Regions from separate parts of the Homo sapiens genome. Here region 2 is linked to region 1. Evidence: fine-mapped expression QTL. A gene starts in region 1. The other region holds a variant in brackets. All regions are shown on one strand. Distances are from middle to middle.

Evidence for each region.
Region 2: its variant is fine-mapped to the expression of IGBP1 in blood mononuclear cells (TOPMed, PIP 0.98).

The regions. Positions count from the first base shown.
Region 1 is chrX:70,128,697-70,137,130 of GRCh38, reverse strand. IGBP1 (immunoglobulin binding protein 1) reads right to left here and starts at 3,684. Exons shown (of 7, transcript NM_001551.3): 1 at 3,591-3,684; 2 at 2,996-3,408; 3 at 2,315-2,608. The coding sequence starts at 3,183. It also overlaps the pseudogene MTND4P31. RefSeq lists an enhancer at 2,806-3,265.
Region 2 is chrX:70,064,975-70,073,408 of GRCh38, reverse strand. No RefSeq gene overlaps it. Among named protein-coding and RNA genes, the nearest start is that of OTUD6A, 6.7 kb to the right of the region's middle. The variant C/T (reference allele first, on the strand shown) is at 4,088.

The DNA.
Region 1 (8,434 bases):
AGTAAACCCTAGTCACCTTTGTGACTTAACTGGGTCTAATCTTTTCCCTCACTGTTTCCTAACTGCTGGTACAGTGTACTAGCTAAAATGCAAATGTGATCATGCTACTATTTGAAAAGAAACAGCCAGGGCACAGCGGCTCACACCTGTAATCCCAGCACTTTGGGAGCCCGAGGTGGGTAGATCACCTGAGATCAGGAGTTCGAGACCAGCCTGGCCAGCACGGCAAAACCCCATCTCTACTAAAAATACAAAAACTAGCCGGGCGTGGTGGCAGGTGCCTGTAATCCCAGCTACTTGAGAGGCTGAGGCAGAATTGCTTGAACCCAGGAGGTGGAGGTTGCAGCGAGCCAAGATCACACCATTGCACTCCAGCCTGGGTGACAAGGGTGAAACTCTGTATAATAATAATAATAATAATAATAATAATAAAGAAAAAAGAAACAGAACTCTTCAGTGGATCTCAGTCACCAACCAGAGTAAGCTCTTTGGCGTGTCCTACCTAATAGCAGCTGACATTTACAGAATACTCACCACATGCCAGATATTGTGCTGTTTTATGTGATTTTTCCCATTTGTGCTTATTAACCCTGAGATAGGTACACATGCATCTCAACTTACAATAGGGCTGCATCTCAATAAATCCATCATAAATGGAAAATATGGTAAGTTGAAAACGCATTTAATACACCTTATTGAACATCATAGCTTAGCCTAGTTTACCTTCAACATGCTCAGAACACTTATATTAGCCTACAGTTGGGCAAAATCATCTAACACAAGGCCTATTTTATAATAAAGTGTTGAATAACTCATGTAATTTATTGATGTTCCCCTGACTGTGTATTGCTTCTGCACCAATATAAAGTTAAAAAATTCTAAGACAAGCCATCGCAAATCGGGGACCATCTGTACCATTATTACTTAGATTTCACATATGAGGAAAGCTGAGGCTCAGTTAGGTTAAATAACTTCCCCAAAGTCCAACAGATTATAAGTAAAGCTGGATCTCAAACCCAGGTCTCTGACTCTATGACCCATACTCTTAGCCACAAATAATAATAGTTGACTTTGAGTGTTTACTGTGTCAAACATTGGGCTAACTGCTTTATATATATTTCTCTTTTAATCCTCATAAACTACTTTATGAGGAAGAACCTATTATTATCTGAATTTTGCAGCTGGGGAAATTAAGGTACTGAAAGATTAAATAACTTACCACAAATCACAGTGATTAATCACAGTCGTCGAGCTGGGATTCAAACACCTTACCAAGTTCTCAGCAACAAGTTTCTCTTCACGTTCCTCACATCCCAGGCTCTCCTTGATGTGGACCCTACAACATTCTTCAGTATCATTCCTTCCCCCTTACCACCACCCTCTTTGTGTTCTACCATCACCTAATTGCTCATAGCTGCTGTTTTTGGTCTACACATCTCCACCCACCACTGTTTCTTTAATGCCTCTGTGGCTTTACTAAGGCTTTACATACTCTGCCGGCTAATGCCCTCCTCTCCTCTTCCCCTGGATATTCCTATTTACCCTTAAAGAACTCAGCACAGGAGTCACCTCTTCCAGGGAGCTTTCTCCTCTCTCCTGCTCCCTTTGGTTAGGTGCCCTTCCTGTCTGCTCTCATAGTACCTTGTGCATCCCTCCACAACATCAGTTTATATTGATATTCTGTTTCTATGCCCGTTTTCCTCACCAGATTGTATGCTCCTCCAAGGCAGGGACCACTCATACTCACACAAATACCTATACAGTTTGTATCCCCAGTGCCTAGCATAGTTCCTAGACATCATGACCACCCATTAAATGTTGTTTAAAAAACAAACAACAACAACAAAAAAAACCTAAGAAAGTAAGCAACTTTTCCAAGGTCACACAATGAAGCTGTGCCAGGACTAAGATCAGTTCAGGATGTTACACATCTACTCCAGTAGTCTGAACAGAGCTCCTCAATCAGTGGACCATAAAATGGCCTAGCTTTGCCTTTCAGAGACATCTACCCCACTGTACCATATGAACATTGCTATGATGTGATGTGGAAAAGGTTGGGAGACACTCTGCTAAACTACATTGCTGCTGTTGCCAACCATAAGGTAGTAAGGGTCTGATAAGTAGGTATAATCATCTCAACAAAAGCAGAGGCTTCTTGGAAAAACTCAGGAAAGTTTGCTCTCCCTAGGGCCTATGCTCAATAAGAACCAAGAAAGTGACACATACCATTCTGGCCCCCCACCACCCGCCAAGAAAGCATGCCCCTGAAAAGCACCGCCATTGGGCAGGCCTCATATTATAGCTATTGACCCACCTCTGTATTTTAGCCTGTCTTTGAGATGCCATAGCAACGAGACTAGGATAAGCCATGGAGGAATTGGCAGTGTGATTTTCAGCAGAGTTGTTCATGGTTTTGGGCAGCTCAAACTCTGCCACATGATAGCAATGGCACTGAGTTAAGTAGTTTATAAAGTGTTCTCGAGCCCGCTGCAAATGATCTAGACGCTTGCTGGGGTTGACTTGTTTCATGGTGAGGGCTCCTTGAAACGCTGGCACCAAAAGGTACTTCAGGTCGGTGGAAGCAATCTCTTCCAAATCTTCATTTCGGCTGGAAGAGCAAAAAGGAGGCAGTGAAGCCTGACTAGGCATTCAAATTGTGGCCCTTGCTTTCTGGGGGACGGAGTGGGAGGCTGGGCTGGGAGTGGACCAGAGGGAGGAGGCACGGGGAACAGCGGCCAGTTTCACTCAATGAAAGTGGCTGAGGGCTCACACCCAATGCCTATGCAATCAGCAGACGCTAGGAAGCAGAGTCGTAAGATATCAACCATCTGGGAAGAGAGGTGGGGAATGTAAACAATGTACACAAGATCGCAGTGGTAAGTAGGAACGAAACGTTCTCACCACTAAAGGTCCCCTCCACTCAGGCGCAATGGCTCCACCCTTGGTAACCATTATTACCTTCGTTCTCAGCCATTATTACTATCTTCCCCCATACCTGAACAAGTCGAGCTGCGATAACATTTCGGCAGCCTTCTCAAGGAGGTCCAAGCCCTTGAACACCTTCTCCTGGACTATCCGGGAACCGGCGGGTTCAGTCGCCACTTCTACTTCGTCCAGTAACTGTCTACCAGTTTCGAACAGCTCGGGGAGCCGCGGCAGCTGTAACTCGTCCTCAGCAGCCATCTTGGGGAGAGAGGAACCCGGAAGATCTCTTTTCCGGGGTCAAAGGCAACCTTGATAAAGAAGAATTAGGCGAGCGCGGACAAAACCGGAAGAAGCACCTCATTGGTCCAGTAGCTTCACTGTTAACAAAGCATCAAAGGACTTCCGGGAGCCGCTGTTAGCCGGCCCTGGCAACCGTTTCCATAGACTCATTTTACCAGGCAGCCCGTTACAAGTCGTAGGCATCTGTTAAAAGCAAACAAACAAGCAAAACCCTAGGCGCTGTTTTACCATGAGCTCCTCGTCGCCGACACGGGGCTGAGAAGTTCTGTGGGCTCTGAAGCCCGGGTGAGGCGAGGCTGAATTCGGAGCGCGAGGAGTGCGGACGAGCGAGTGCGTTTTAGGAGCCAGTCTGGCGCGCCCCTTACCTCGCGAGTAGCTCCCTAGGTTGAGGAGTCCAGGGACTCTAGCCGCCGCACCACTCCCACGGTTTGAAGATCCGGTCGCTTGAGCGCGAAGTGCAAGTAGCGCCCCCCTGCGGTTTCCGTCCACCCACCAGATGGAGCTCCGGGTTCCTCCCAGCCAATCCTCTCCCGTCCTCTTCCCCCTTCACCCCACACACGCCTACGACCCGTAGGCCGGCGTCCGGTGGAGCCCCCCTCAGCAAGATTGGCAACCTGCAACTCCGGTCACCGCACAGCCGGCTTCCCTTCGTGCACTTAGTTCCTACATCAAATGTTATTTCTGTGCAACCTTCCTTGTCTCTCTACCGCCTTCCACCCTGTGCCCTTCAGCCGCCAAGTCTGGGTTTCTCCTATGCATCTCTATCATGGCACCTACCACGCTGTATAATTGCTAGTGACTTACAAATCTCTCTTATCAGAATGAATTTGACTCATCTTTGCACCACTCTGGCTAGCCTGAGTACTCAGTATCAGTCATTATCTGAATAAAAAAAAAAAGTGATCAGTTTGGAAAGCAGCCAACTTATGCAGAACAGCATTGTTCAGTAGGTAGTTACTAGCTACATGTGGTTACTAAGCACTTGAAAGTGGCTATTTTGAATCGAGATGTGCTGCAAGTGTAAAAAACACCCCAGATTTCAAAGACATTTAAAAAAAAAAGAATGAAAAATGTAAATACTTTTTACATGGACTACATGTTGAAATGATAGTCTTTTGGATATGTTGGATTAAATATATTATTAGAATTAATTGTACTTCTTTCTTTTCACTTTGTAAATGTGCCTGCCAGATAATTTAAAACTATATTTGTAGCTCCCATTATATTTCTACTGGACAGAACTGATGGAAAACATAATTTCAGGACTTCAAAGAAGGGACGTCATTGTTTTGAACAAAGCAATATAAATACATACTGATTACCTTAGGACGCAGCCTGAATTGTCCTAGGAGATTTAAGTAGCAGGCACACTGTCTACCCCTGAAAATAAACTTTTAAACTAGTATTTTAAACTACATATCGTTGAGAAGAAAAAAAGCTTCATTAAAAAACAACTAGAGGGCAATATAGGACAGTATAAAATAGGTGATATGTTGTATTGCACAGGCTGTTGGAAAAGCAAGAAAGGGCAAGTCATCCCATGCTAGGAGTAGTTCAGAAGGCTTCTTAGACATGACATGCGGTCACATAGAAGAATGTCAAAGTTTAAAGGGAACCCCCAAAATCGGAGGAAAAACTTGAGACCAGAAAGGTTAAGGGACTTGTCCAGCCAGTTTGTGACAAAGTCAGTGACTTCTGCGTTCAATTGTTTCTACTCCATTAACCTTCAGTTGGGTAGGATTTAGAAAGATGAAGACCTTTAATGTGGGACAGATTGAAGCCCCAAACTAGAACAGTGCTTCCTAAGAGGGAGAGGAGGCTGTGGCACACATGTAGGTTGAAAAAGCTTCCCAGGTGATTCTAATAAACCTTCCCTTGCAACCCCTGCTTTATAAACTAAGAAGGAAGTGAGGCTTTGGCGAATTACCTATTTGGTTTATCTGGCACCTCTAGTAAACTGACCTTTCAGGGTCAGGCTTGGCAGGGAATATAAAGAAAAAGATAGTACTTGTGGAGGAGACTTAGAAATGTAGTAATTGTGAGAGTAAAGATAATTTGCTTCTCTGCATTTGCTTGGATTAAAACATGTCTTTACTGTTACTTAAGAGGAAAAAAATGTGCACAGTCTTAATTTGGTCTTAAACTTTGTAAGTCATTTTTTATGGCTTTCAAAATTAGTCTTTTTTTTTTTTTTTTTTTGAGACAGGGTCTCACTCTGCCACCCAGGCTGGAGTGCTGGAATGCATTGGCACGATCTTAGCTCACTGCAAACTCCGCCTCCTGGACTCAAGTGATCCTCTACCCTCAAGCCCCCCAATTAGCTGGGACTACAGGTGCAAGTCACCACTCCTGGCTAATTTTTGTATTTTTTTGTAGAGGCGGGGTTTCGCCATGTTGCCCAGGCTGATCTCAAACTCCTGAGGTCAAGTGATCCACCCGCTTCACCGTCCCAAAGTGTTGGGATTACAGACGTGATTCAGTGTGCCCAGCCAAAATGACGGTCTTTATGGGAGATGCCAATTACTTTCAGAGTGCCTGTTATATATTAGAGTTGTCATTTTAAGCATTGCATTTCATCTTATTCTGAAAGAATACCAAGATTAAAAAGTGGTTAGAAAAAAAGGAATAATGGCCGGGCGTGGTGGCTCATGCCTGTGATCCCAGCACTTTGGGAGGCCGAGGTGGGCAGCTCACCTGAGGTCAGGAGTTCAAGACCAGCCTGGCCAACATGGTGAAACCCTGTCTCTACTAAACATACAAAAATTAGCTGGGCATGGTGGCGCGGGCCTGTAACCCCAGCTACTCCGGAGGCTGAGGCAGTGAGCCGGGAGGCAGAGGCTGCAGCGAGCCGAGATCACACCACTGCACTCCAGCCTGGGCGACAGAGCGAGACTCTGTCTCACAAAAAAGAAAGAAAAAAAGGAATAATAAAAACGAGTCGTTTGCTGTGTTTTGTGTGTAAACACTTTATCATATTAAACTCCTGTTGTGCATGGGAGACTTTTTAAAATCCTAGTTTAGGGCACTTAACAATCATGAAAGTATAACGGTACTTAAACTTTTTGTAGTAGCATAATTCTTTTTCCAAAACAAGTTTTAGAGAGCCTGTAATTTCTAAAAGGACTGATGTATTTGAAGAGGATACAAAGAAGCCTGCCAACTCAGCCACTGGCCCATCTTCCTCAACCTGCTCAGTGAGTGGCACTCCAGGTGAGGGACTCAAGGGCTCTAAGTAACACAATATAAAAAGCATTAATCTGGCCAGGTGCAGTGGCTCCCGCCTGTAATCCCAACACTTTGGGAGGCTGAGGTGGGAGGATCCCTTTAGCCCAACTCTGCTACTGAATAGCTGTGGGACCTTGGAGAAATTCCTTCCTTTGCTCTTTCCATACATGCTGTGTGCTACCTGAATGCTAGGCATTGAGAATTCGAACACTACCCGAGGTTTAAGCTCTTAAGGGGTCCATAGTTCCACGGAAGAGACAGGTAAACAAATAATCAAATGTTAATTTGATAAATATTTTGATAAAGGTGTGTTCAAGGTGTTAGAGGAATGGAGAGAATAACTTTGGCCCGGAGGGGCATTCTGTTAAAGGTCAAACTCAATAACATGACTTTAAGATCCTTTCTAATCTGCCTGCTGACATCCTTTTCATTTTGTTCCTTCGTGGATCCTAAGCTGAATCTTTAGCAAACTCTCCTAGTTCTCCAAACCTATCATGTTCTCTTAGGCCTTCATGCATTCACATAGGTGGTACCTTCTGCCTGGAATGTCATCTTCCTTGTCTGTGCCTGGCAAATTTCTATTCATTACTCATAACTTGGCTCAAAGATCACTTGCTCTGGGAAGCACTTCCTGATTTTCCCCTGTAGGCGAGGCTACCTCCTTCTTAGCTCTTATAGCATTTGATTCATCCCCCTGTGATAGTACTGTACTGTGGTTATCTTTATCCACACCTGTCTCTCACTAAACTGAGAGCTCTTTAAGGCCAGGGAGAGTGTCTTACTCATCTTTGTTCACTCTAGCACAGAACCTGCCACCCAGTAGGTAGGAGAGACTCAATGTTAAATGAATAACTTTGTATCATAATAATACCTAACCTTCTCTGAGCGCTCACATCCTGCCAAGTGACTATGCTAAGTACTTTACATGTGAAGGAGTTCAGGAGATGCCATCCCAAAATATGCCACTTTGGTATGCTGATTATTTGAACCAAGGGCACTTGGGGAACAGTGGATACAGGCAGAGGCTGTCTCTGAGCTCCCCTTATCTGCCTAAAGCTGGCTCCTCCAAAAGGAATGTAATTGTCATGAATCCCCTCTCTAGGAATCTTACCAACCAGGGAAGATTAACTTGGATCACAGGAGAGGAGATCGGAGGCTGACACCACACCCAGACAATCACCTATTCTTCTGAGAGCTGCTTTGAGAGAAGTTTTATTACCTGAAAGACTTTTTATCTGCATAACAAGACAACCTCTGTTACCACACATTTCCTTCCCTTGCTCTCCCATAACTCTTGTGTTGCCACCAGCCCCCAGGAAGCCCCAAGCCCCTATTCCTTTCTGTAGTTCAGGATGCTGTGTAAGCTTCAATTGAAACAATCCCTATAAACTTCATAAAATTAATCAGGGAAGAAGGGAGGGAGAGAAAAAAAATAAACCAAACTCGCAGCAAATTCAGCTTCATGCTGAATTCATGAGGTCAGCTTGCCCTCTGACCTGATTCCTCATAGTTGTTTGCTGCCTACTGCTTCAAAATCATGTAGACCCTGTTACAAGATTATAGTTCCCCTTAACTGTTCTATATCTCATTGCCTATTCTTCTGTAAGCAGCCACATGGCACTTTTTACTGTAGCCATCCTCATCCAAATACCCTGAAGTTTTATGGGTGCAGTTGTCCTAATAATTGCCCATGGACTCACATCATCTATACTGTTTTGCCTTGCAAACTCAAATTATGAACGAATCCATAGTTGAACAATACTATTAGCCTGATGATAGCAGCAGGAGGCAGACAAATCCCTAGGCAGACAGGGGCGGGTCCCCTGTGAAACCTGACCTTCAAACCAAAGACAGTTTAAAGTCTGAAAACCAAGCTACAAGTCTCGAATAAATCCACAGACCGGATTGAGAACCTCTCTTCCTGTTTGGCGTGCTTTCCTCTGATTGATCCCCACCCTTCACCTATTTTACATATACCTACCCT
Region 2 (8,434 bases), 64 kb after region 1:
TTCCTCTGGAGCCTCAGTAAATTTACTTAATCTAAATGGGTCTAGGTGCTGGGGTGATTACCCTTATCTTGTCTCCTGCTAAATCATGGAGGTTTGGGGAGTTCCCTCAGACCTCCAATAAACTTGTTTGTGGAGGCCTGGGGAGTTTCTTCAGGCCCCTGATAAAACTCTTTTAATCCTAAATAGCTTCCTGTTAAGGATTCCTTCGTTATGGCCGGGCGCAGTGGCTCATGCCGCCTGTAATCCCAGCACTTTGGGAGGCCAAGGTGGGTGGATCACATGAGGTCAGGAGTTCGAGACCAGCCTAACCAATATGGTGAAACTTCGTGTCTACTAAAAATACAAAAATTAGCAGGGTGTGGTGGCGGGCGCCTGTAGTCCCAGCTACTCGGGAGGCTGAGAAAGGAGAATCACTTGAACTTGGGAGGCAGAGGTAGCAGTGAGCCAAGATCGTGCCACTGCATTCCAGCCTGGGTGACAGAGCAAGTCTCCATCTAAAAAAAAAAAAAAAAAATTCCTTCATTATTTTTTCATGGTTTAACTCCCAGGAAAGGCCTAGGCAAAACTCTTGGTGAGCTTTTGTTACATCCCAGCCTTTATATAAGGGCACTGGCTTTTAATACTTAACCACGTCAGTCAGTACTGAAACATTTGTTATGGAGGTCTGTGTTAGTGAGATCTGGCCTGCCACAATATGTATACCCTCAATATATTGCGAGGTCAAAAGCTATGTGCATTTTATTAAGTAGGTTAGGTTTAAATTTTTAATTCATATAGTTCAAAATACCAGAAGTTCAAGAGATTACACAGTGAGAAGCCCCCTCCCATCCTTTCCCCTAGGAACCTGGTTCCCCTCCTCAAAAGTGACCAGTTATATCCTTTTAAATATATATTCTAATCATGTGCAAGGGAAACTGCTAAAAATACAAATGATAGTGGTTTATGCACTTTAAATTTGATAGCTATTGCCAAATAGCCCTCCAAAGAGATTGTACCCATTTATACACCATCCATCAGCAATGTTTGAGAGTGCCTGTTTCTGCATTCCCTCATCAACACAGCATACGAACAAACTTTACTTCTTTGCTAATCTGACTGATGAAACATGGTATCTCATTTAATTTGTAATATTATGAGTAAAACAGATGTTTACTTAAGCTGGGTTACTTCTCCTGCCTCCCTCTTCAGCTTCTTTTCCACAACTCTCTCACAACTACCCTTCAGCTAGGCTGAACAGGAGACACCCGTTCTTTCACTCCTTCTTGTCTCTGCTCTGGTTGTGTTCTCTGGGAGCTCCTGCTAAGCCTCCTGACACAGCAAGTCGGATTCAGTGTCCTTTCTTCCTCTGTGCTTCCTCTCATCACAGCATTGGTCATGTTGCTTTCTGTCTATTTCTGTTTTCCTGTCTGCCACCTCTAGACGGTGAGCACTGGGACTACATCTTTTCTCTCTCTTAAGCTATGGTTTATCACTGTTATCATCGGTAAATATGAAAAGAGTGGATGAATGGATAGCTGACAGTTTCAAACTGAGGTAAAAAAATATAGGTTTTCTGTATCACTGATTAAAAGAGATTCACCTTTTTATAGTATAAGAATGTAATATATATGGAAGGTGGCAATTCAAATCAGTGGTGAAATGGTGGATTATTCAATAAATAGTGTTGAGCTAATTGGTTAACTATCATAATTGAGGAAAATCACTTTATGTCCTTATCTTACACCCATGTAATTTCCAGGTGGATATATTAAATATAAATATAAAGAGAAAGCATTAAAAAATCGAAATAAATTATGCACAAGTATCGATCCATTTTCAGGATAAGGAAGACTTTTCTAAGACTGACACCAAGACAGAAACCATAATGAAAAAGATTAATAGATTTTAAACTTACATTATGATTTTAAACTTACACATATGCAAAAAGAAAGAAACAAAACTGAAAGGCTAATTAATGCACAGGAAAAACTATTTTTTTTTTTTGAGACAGAGTCTGACTCTGTTGCCCAGGGTGGAGTGCAGTGGCACAATCTTGGCTCACTGCAAGCTCTGTCTCCCTGGTTCAAGTGGTTCTCCTGCCTCAGCCTTCTGAGTAGCTGGGATTAGAGGCATGCGCCATCACGCCCAGCTAATTTTTGTATTTTTAGTAGCCAGGATGGTTTCGATCTCCTGACCTCATGATCTGCCTGCCTTGGCCTCCCAAAGTGCTGGGATTACAGGCATGAACCACCACGCCTGGCCAACTATTTTTTAAAATATTCAAATGACAAGTGATCAGATTTATTAATATGGAAGGTCCTATTAAAAATGCAGAAGAAGGCCGGGTGCTGTGGCTCACGCCTGTAATCTTAGCACTTTGGGAGTCTGAGATGGGTGGATCGCCTGAGCTCAGGAGTTCAAGATCAGCCTGGGCAACACGGTGAAACCCTGTCTCTACTAAAATACAAAAAATTAGCCAGGTGTGGTGGCGTGTGCCTGTAATCCCAGCTACTTGAGAGGCTGAGACAGGAGAAACGCTTGAACCCAGGAGGCAGAGGTTGCAGTGAGCCGAGATTGTGCCATTGCACTCCAGCCTGGGCGACAGAGTGAGCCTCTGTCTCAAAAAACAAAAACAAAAACAAACAAACAAACAAAAAAAAGAAAAAGACAAACTTATTCAGAGAAAATTAAGTGAAGTTCAGGAATAGGCAACAAAATAAGAAATATTTGTTCCTGGAAAACAAAATACCGTATGTTCTCACTTATAAGTGGGTGCTAAACTTTGGGTAAACAAGGACCTAAAGATGGATACAATAGACACCTGGGACTACTATGGGGGAGGTGGAGGCGGAAGGGGCGAGGGCTGAAAAACTACCTGTTGACTACTATACTCATTGCCTAGGTGATGGGATCATTTGTACTCCAAACCTAAGTGTCATGCAATATGCCCACATAACAAATCTACACATGTGTCTCCTGAATCTAAAATAAAGTTGAAATTCAAAAAAAGAGAAATACTTATTCCTGCATGAATGAAATAAACACATAGAGGAATATTCAATCTCACTAGTAATCAATGAAACATCCACTAATACAACATTTTTCATCTGACAAATTAGCAACAATGATAATTTTCCGTGTTGGCAATTATGTGGGAATATAACAGCCTCATAGCCTGGGAGTGTAAATTCATGCAGTCTTTCCCAGTACGCATTAAGAGCCCCTCCTTTTTGACCTAGATCACGTCTACAAATCTTATCAAAAGGAAATAATCAGAAATATAGACAAAGATTCAGCTGCAAGGATATTACAGTGGCATATTTATAGTGGTGAGAAATTGAAAGCAATCTAAACGTCCAACAATAAAATTGAATAAATAAATTATGGCACATTCATTGGCTAGAAGGCAGGCTTTAAAATCATCATATTGAAGACTGTTAAGGACACAAGAAAGTGTTTATAATGTATTGTTAAGTTTAAAAGCCAATTTCAATAGAATGACACCAATATTGTTTTTCAAAACATGTGAGTCTATTATGTGTTTGTGTAGAAAAGTCCTGAAAAGAAGAGCCTGAGGAGTTCCTCCATGCAGGTCACCCTGTCCCCAGAGGGGCACTTTTGGTGAGCTCCAGTAGAAGCTCTGATAGCAACAGCTGGGGCAGACAGCCCTGGGAGAGTCTCTGCTTCCCCTGCAGGACCTGTGGGAAGAGGCCAAGTGGCCCCAAAAGTCACTGTAGACAAAATCAAGAAGTGGCTGCTGCCAGAGCCAATAATGTCATGTTCATGGGCTCCTAGATAATATTAATAGTAGCTAACATTTGTTGGGCACTTATTTACTGGACACTTGATATGTATTTTCTTTTCCTTTTTTTTTTTTTTGAGATGGAGTTTCGCTCTTGTTGCCCAGGCTGGAGCGCAATGACGCGATCTCGGCTCACTGCAACCTCTGCCTTGCGGTTTCAAGCGATTCTCCTGCCTCAGCCTCCCAAGTAGCTGGGTCCACAGGCGTGTGCCACCATGCCCAGCTAATTTTTGTATTTTTAGTAGAGATGGGGTTTCATCTTTTTGTTCAGGCTGGTCTCGAACTCCTGGCCTTAAATAATCCACA[C/T]GCCTTGGCCCCCAAAGTGCTGGGATTACAGGTGTGAGCCATCACGCCCGGAGGCATTTTCATTTAATGTTCTTAACATCCTGAAGAAATATCTCTAAGACAAGTATTAATCTCCCTATGTTATCCATGAGGAAACTGAGGCCCAGAAAGTTTAGGTGACTTATCCAAGGTCGCAAAGCTAGGAAGTAGGTGGGCAATTTCGGCTTTAAACCCAGATAGATGTCTGACTCCAGAGCCTAAATTTGCATACAAGAAGCATCTTATTTTTTATTGCTATGGCAAGAGGGGAGAGGGAATGATAATGAATAAATAAAAAACAGTAAGGAAATGAATGAAAGTTGCTTCTGGAATTAGATCCTTTTGAGAACAGTACCCCATGGCTTTCATGAACTTGCCCAGAATAGCCTGTCCTCAGTGACTGTAGTCATTGTTATAGAATGGAACAAACTGCAAATCCCTTGTGTCCTGCCAGATCCCACAGTGGAGACCCCCCTCTTTGTGTTCTGGGCATGGTTAGGATCTGGCCTGGGTTAACACTTCCCTCTCCTTCCTGCTGAAGGCAGACCCAATGGGGGCAGCTGGGGACGGGCCGAGTGAGATCTTAAAGGTTCCCAAAATAGGAATAGCTATTTCTCTTGTATTCAGGGACAAGCCTGTAAAATGGGACTTTACCATCTTTGGTGCCATCTGTCACAGAATTTTTTGGGCTGTACCAGCCCCACCCCCAGCAAGGCTCACATTATCCAGGCAGTGCCCTCTAAAGCAACCTATGCCTCTTCTCCACTTAAGACCCCTGCCCAGCCTATGCCCCCTTTCCCAGCCAGTGCACCCTTCCACAGCTGTGCCCATTCCCCAGCCATCCCCCCATACCCTGTGAACCCCTTGCCTAGCAAGTTCCTCTGCCCCCAGGCAGGTGGCCTCCCCTCTTCAAAAGCCAGGAATCTCTTTTTCATCCTATACCAACTTATACCCTATGCCAACTAGGCTCCCTTCAGCAATGAGTGTCCTTGTCACCAGCCTATTCTCCCTTCCTTGCGCAGCTGCGCTTCCTTAACCTTGCTCCTCAGTCTATTTCCTTTCTAGACCTAGGCCTCCTTTCTCAGGGAGTCCCCCTTCCCCACCCGATCCCCACCCTGTGCTGCCTGCCCTTCTCTCATCAGGAGCCCTGATTCTGCCTGTTCCCTGGAACCCAGTCATGCCCGCTTTCTCAGTCAGGCCACCTCACTTAGCCAGGCCCCCTTCATCCATTTATATACCTTTCCTCCCAGCTAGGCTTCCTTCCCCAGCCAAGGCCACTTCTCCAGTCACGTCACCTTGCCCTGCTAGACATGCTTCCCCTATACCTACTGATACGGCCTCCCCAGTCAGGCCCCATTTCCCAGCCAGTACTGCCTTCTGCAGCAACCCTACCCAGGCTCTCTGCCCCAGCTTGTTGCCCCTCCCCAGCCTGTGCCCCCTGGACAGGTAGGCCTTCTTTGGCAACCAGGCAGACTTCCCGAGCCTGAACTCTTGTCTCTAGCCTGTCCTGGACCATGAAGGAATTCTACCCCAGCCAGAGCCCCTTCTCCTTCCAGGTCCCCTTTGCCCAATATCCCTATCTCCAGGCAGGCTCCACGACCCAACTTTATTTTCCTTGCTTAGCCTATGTCCCCTTGCCCAGGGCCCCTTTCCCCAGCCAGACCCTCTTCCTCAAGCTGTGTCCTCTTTAGATTGGCCCCTTTCTTAGCCATCTGACCAGCCTGTGCGCACCTCTCTGCCCTCTAACCACTTACTGCTGGGTTCCCAGTCTGTGTCTCGGTGGGGCTTCCTCCTCATCCTGTACCCCCAACCAGATGCCCCTCCTTCCTTTCTCTCCCAGGACAGACTCAACCCCAGCCAGAGCCTATTCCCCAACCTCCTTAGCCAGTCTGCCCTTCCCCAGCCCAGGCCTTTTTTCAACTCTATGTCCCCTTCCCACAGCCGGGCACCCATCCCCAGCCTTTCCCCTTTTCAACGGGACCACTTTTCCAAGGAGTTGCCCCTTTGCTGGCCTTTCCCAGCCAGCACCTCCTTCCGCAGTCAGGCATCTTCTCTCAGCTCTCCCTCACCTACCCAGTGGCCTCCCCAGCCATGCAATCTTTCCCACCAGGATCCCTTCACCCACATGTGCCCCGTGCTAAGCCAAGTCTGCTTCCCCGGCTAGGAAAGGGTTCCTAGCCATGCCCCTCCTGCAGCCAAGCTCTCCTCACCCAACGTGCCCTCTGCCCCAGTCTGTGCTCCTTTTTCCAGGCAGGCCTCCTTCCACAGCCTTCGCCTGCCTAGGCCCCTTGTCCAGCCTATTGCCCCTACCCCAGCCAGACCCCATTCCTATCCTGTGTGCCCCTCTACAACTAAGCCCGTTTTCTCAACCACGTGCCCTTCCTCAGCCAAGTTCCTGTCAGGGGGAGAGGCCCTCATTCCCAGGCATGATTTCTTTCCTAGCAAGCTCTCTCCACCTGGTAGGCCCCCTCTCCCAGCCGGGCCCACTAACCTGCCTATGATCCCATCTCTAGCCTATGTCCTTCTCGGTATTCAAACCTTTCCCACCACCAGGTTCCCTTTCCTAGTCTGTGCCTCCCTCCCCAGCCCCTTCCGCTGTCAGAGTCGCTCTCCAGTTAGGCAACCTTTCCCTAAGGGGTCTTTTTACCCCACAATCCTCCCTACCCCACACCCATCTGTCTTCCATAGATTGTGCCAGCCTCTCAAGACTGTGGTCCCTTTACAAGACAGGCACATCCCCATGTCTGGGACCCTTCCTCAGTCTCGCCCTCTCCGCCAATCTATGTCCTTCTCCCCGAGTCTATGTCCTCCTCCCCAGCTTATGCTTACTTTCCTGCTAGATCTCCTTCCCTGGTCCAGTGCCTTCTCCAGCCTGGACTCCACTGGACAGCCCATGTCCCCTCCGCCGGCCAGGCGTTCTTCCCCAGCCTTTCCTCTCATTAACAGCTAGGAACACCTTTCTCATCCTTTGGCTCCTAACTCAACTGGGCCTCCTTCCCTTGACCAGCCAGTTCTTCCCTAACCTGCTCCCCCCACCCCCGCTCACCCTATTATGTCCCTCCCAGCCAGGCTTCCTTCCCCACCCCGTGTCCCAGTCCACAGCCAGGTTCCCTTGCCCAGCCTTGTCCCCTTCCTCTGCCAGTGCCTCCCTAGCCTGTTACCTCTTCCCCAAGATCTTCCTCCTTGCCCTGCCAAGGCCACTCCCATGCTTGGCCCCTTTGGTCACCTAAGCCTGCATCATCAGCCGGGCCACCTTTCCCAGCCAGCATTCCCCCACCCTTGCAGCCAGGTCCCCCCTCCCCCCATCCCAGCCAGGCTTCCTTCTTCAATGACCCCTCCACACCATATGGCACTTCTTCAGCCTGTGTGCCCTCCCCAGTGAGGCTCCCTTCCCTATCCAGGCCCAATTTCCCAATTCCCTTCAATTCCCCTGGCCAGGCAGTTTGCCAGAGCCATTTCCCCATTCAATAGCCAAAGACCCGTTGCTACGAGGCATCTTGTCCCTTTGAGTTGCCCCCTGGTCAGCCTATTCCTCCTTGTATAGACAGTGACTCTTTCTTGACCCAGCCCCCTTTCCTGCCCTTCTCTCCACCCAACTCCACCCCTGCCAGGACCCCTTCCCCAGACTGTAGCCCAGTTCCCAAACAGCTTCCCTTCCCAAGCCAGGCCCCCTTCCTCTCCTTCTCCAGCCTGCCCCAGCTGGGCCACCTTCTCCTACCAGGAACCCTTCACCAGTCCATGCCCCAGCCTCCAGCCTGGACCCTTTGCAGGCATCCTCCCTCAGCCAGGACTTCTTTCCTAGCCTGTGCCCCCGCTACCCAGCTGGGCCTCTTTGTCCATGAAGGTCCCCTACCCTAGCCAGGCCTCTTCTTTTAGCTTGTCACCCCCTTCCCTGACCCTATGCAGCCCACTGAAGTAGAGCACCTTTCCCATTTCTAGAGCCCTTCAGCAGTCTTTGCCCCTGTCCCCAGTCAGCAACCACCACCCCGCCACCCGCAACAGGCCTATGCTCCCTAACCCTCCAGGATTCCTTTGCTTAAGTAGATCCTGGGATATAAACTCTATATGAAGTTAGCTACACAAAAACAGAGAAGCAGGTATTTTTTAAATGGTTTTTATTTTTGAACAAACTACATGTTTAAAAACTTTCAAAAACATATATATTTTATCTTAGAGCATTTGGAATGTAGAAAGAATTTCCAAAATTAATCTCACTGAATTACAGAAAGTAAAGATTAAAATTTTCATAAGTTGTTGACTGTAAATCATTTCATTTTATATTCTTTTGGAAAATTCAAGGATATTAACAAGTCTCAAATAACAAAAGTA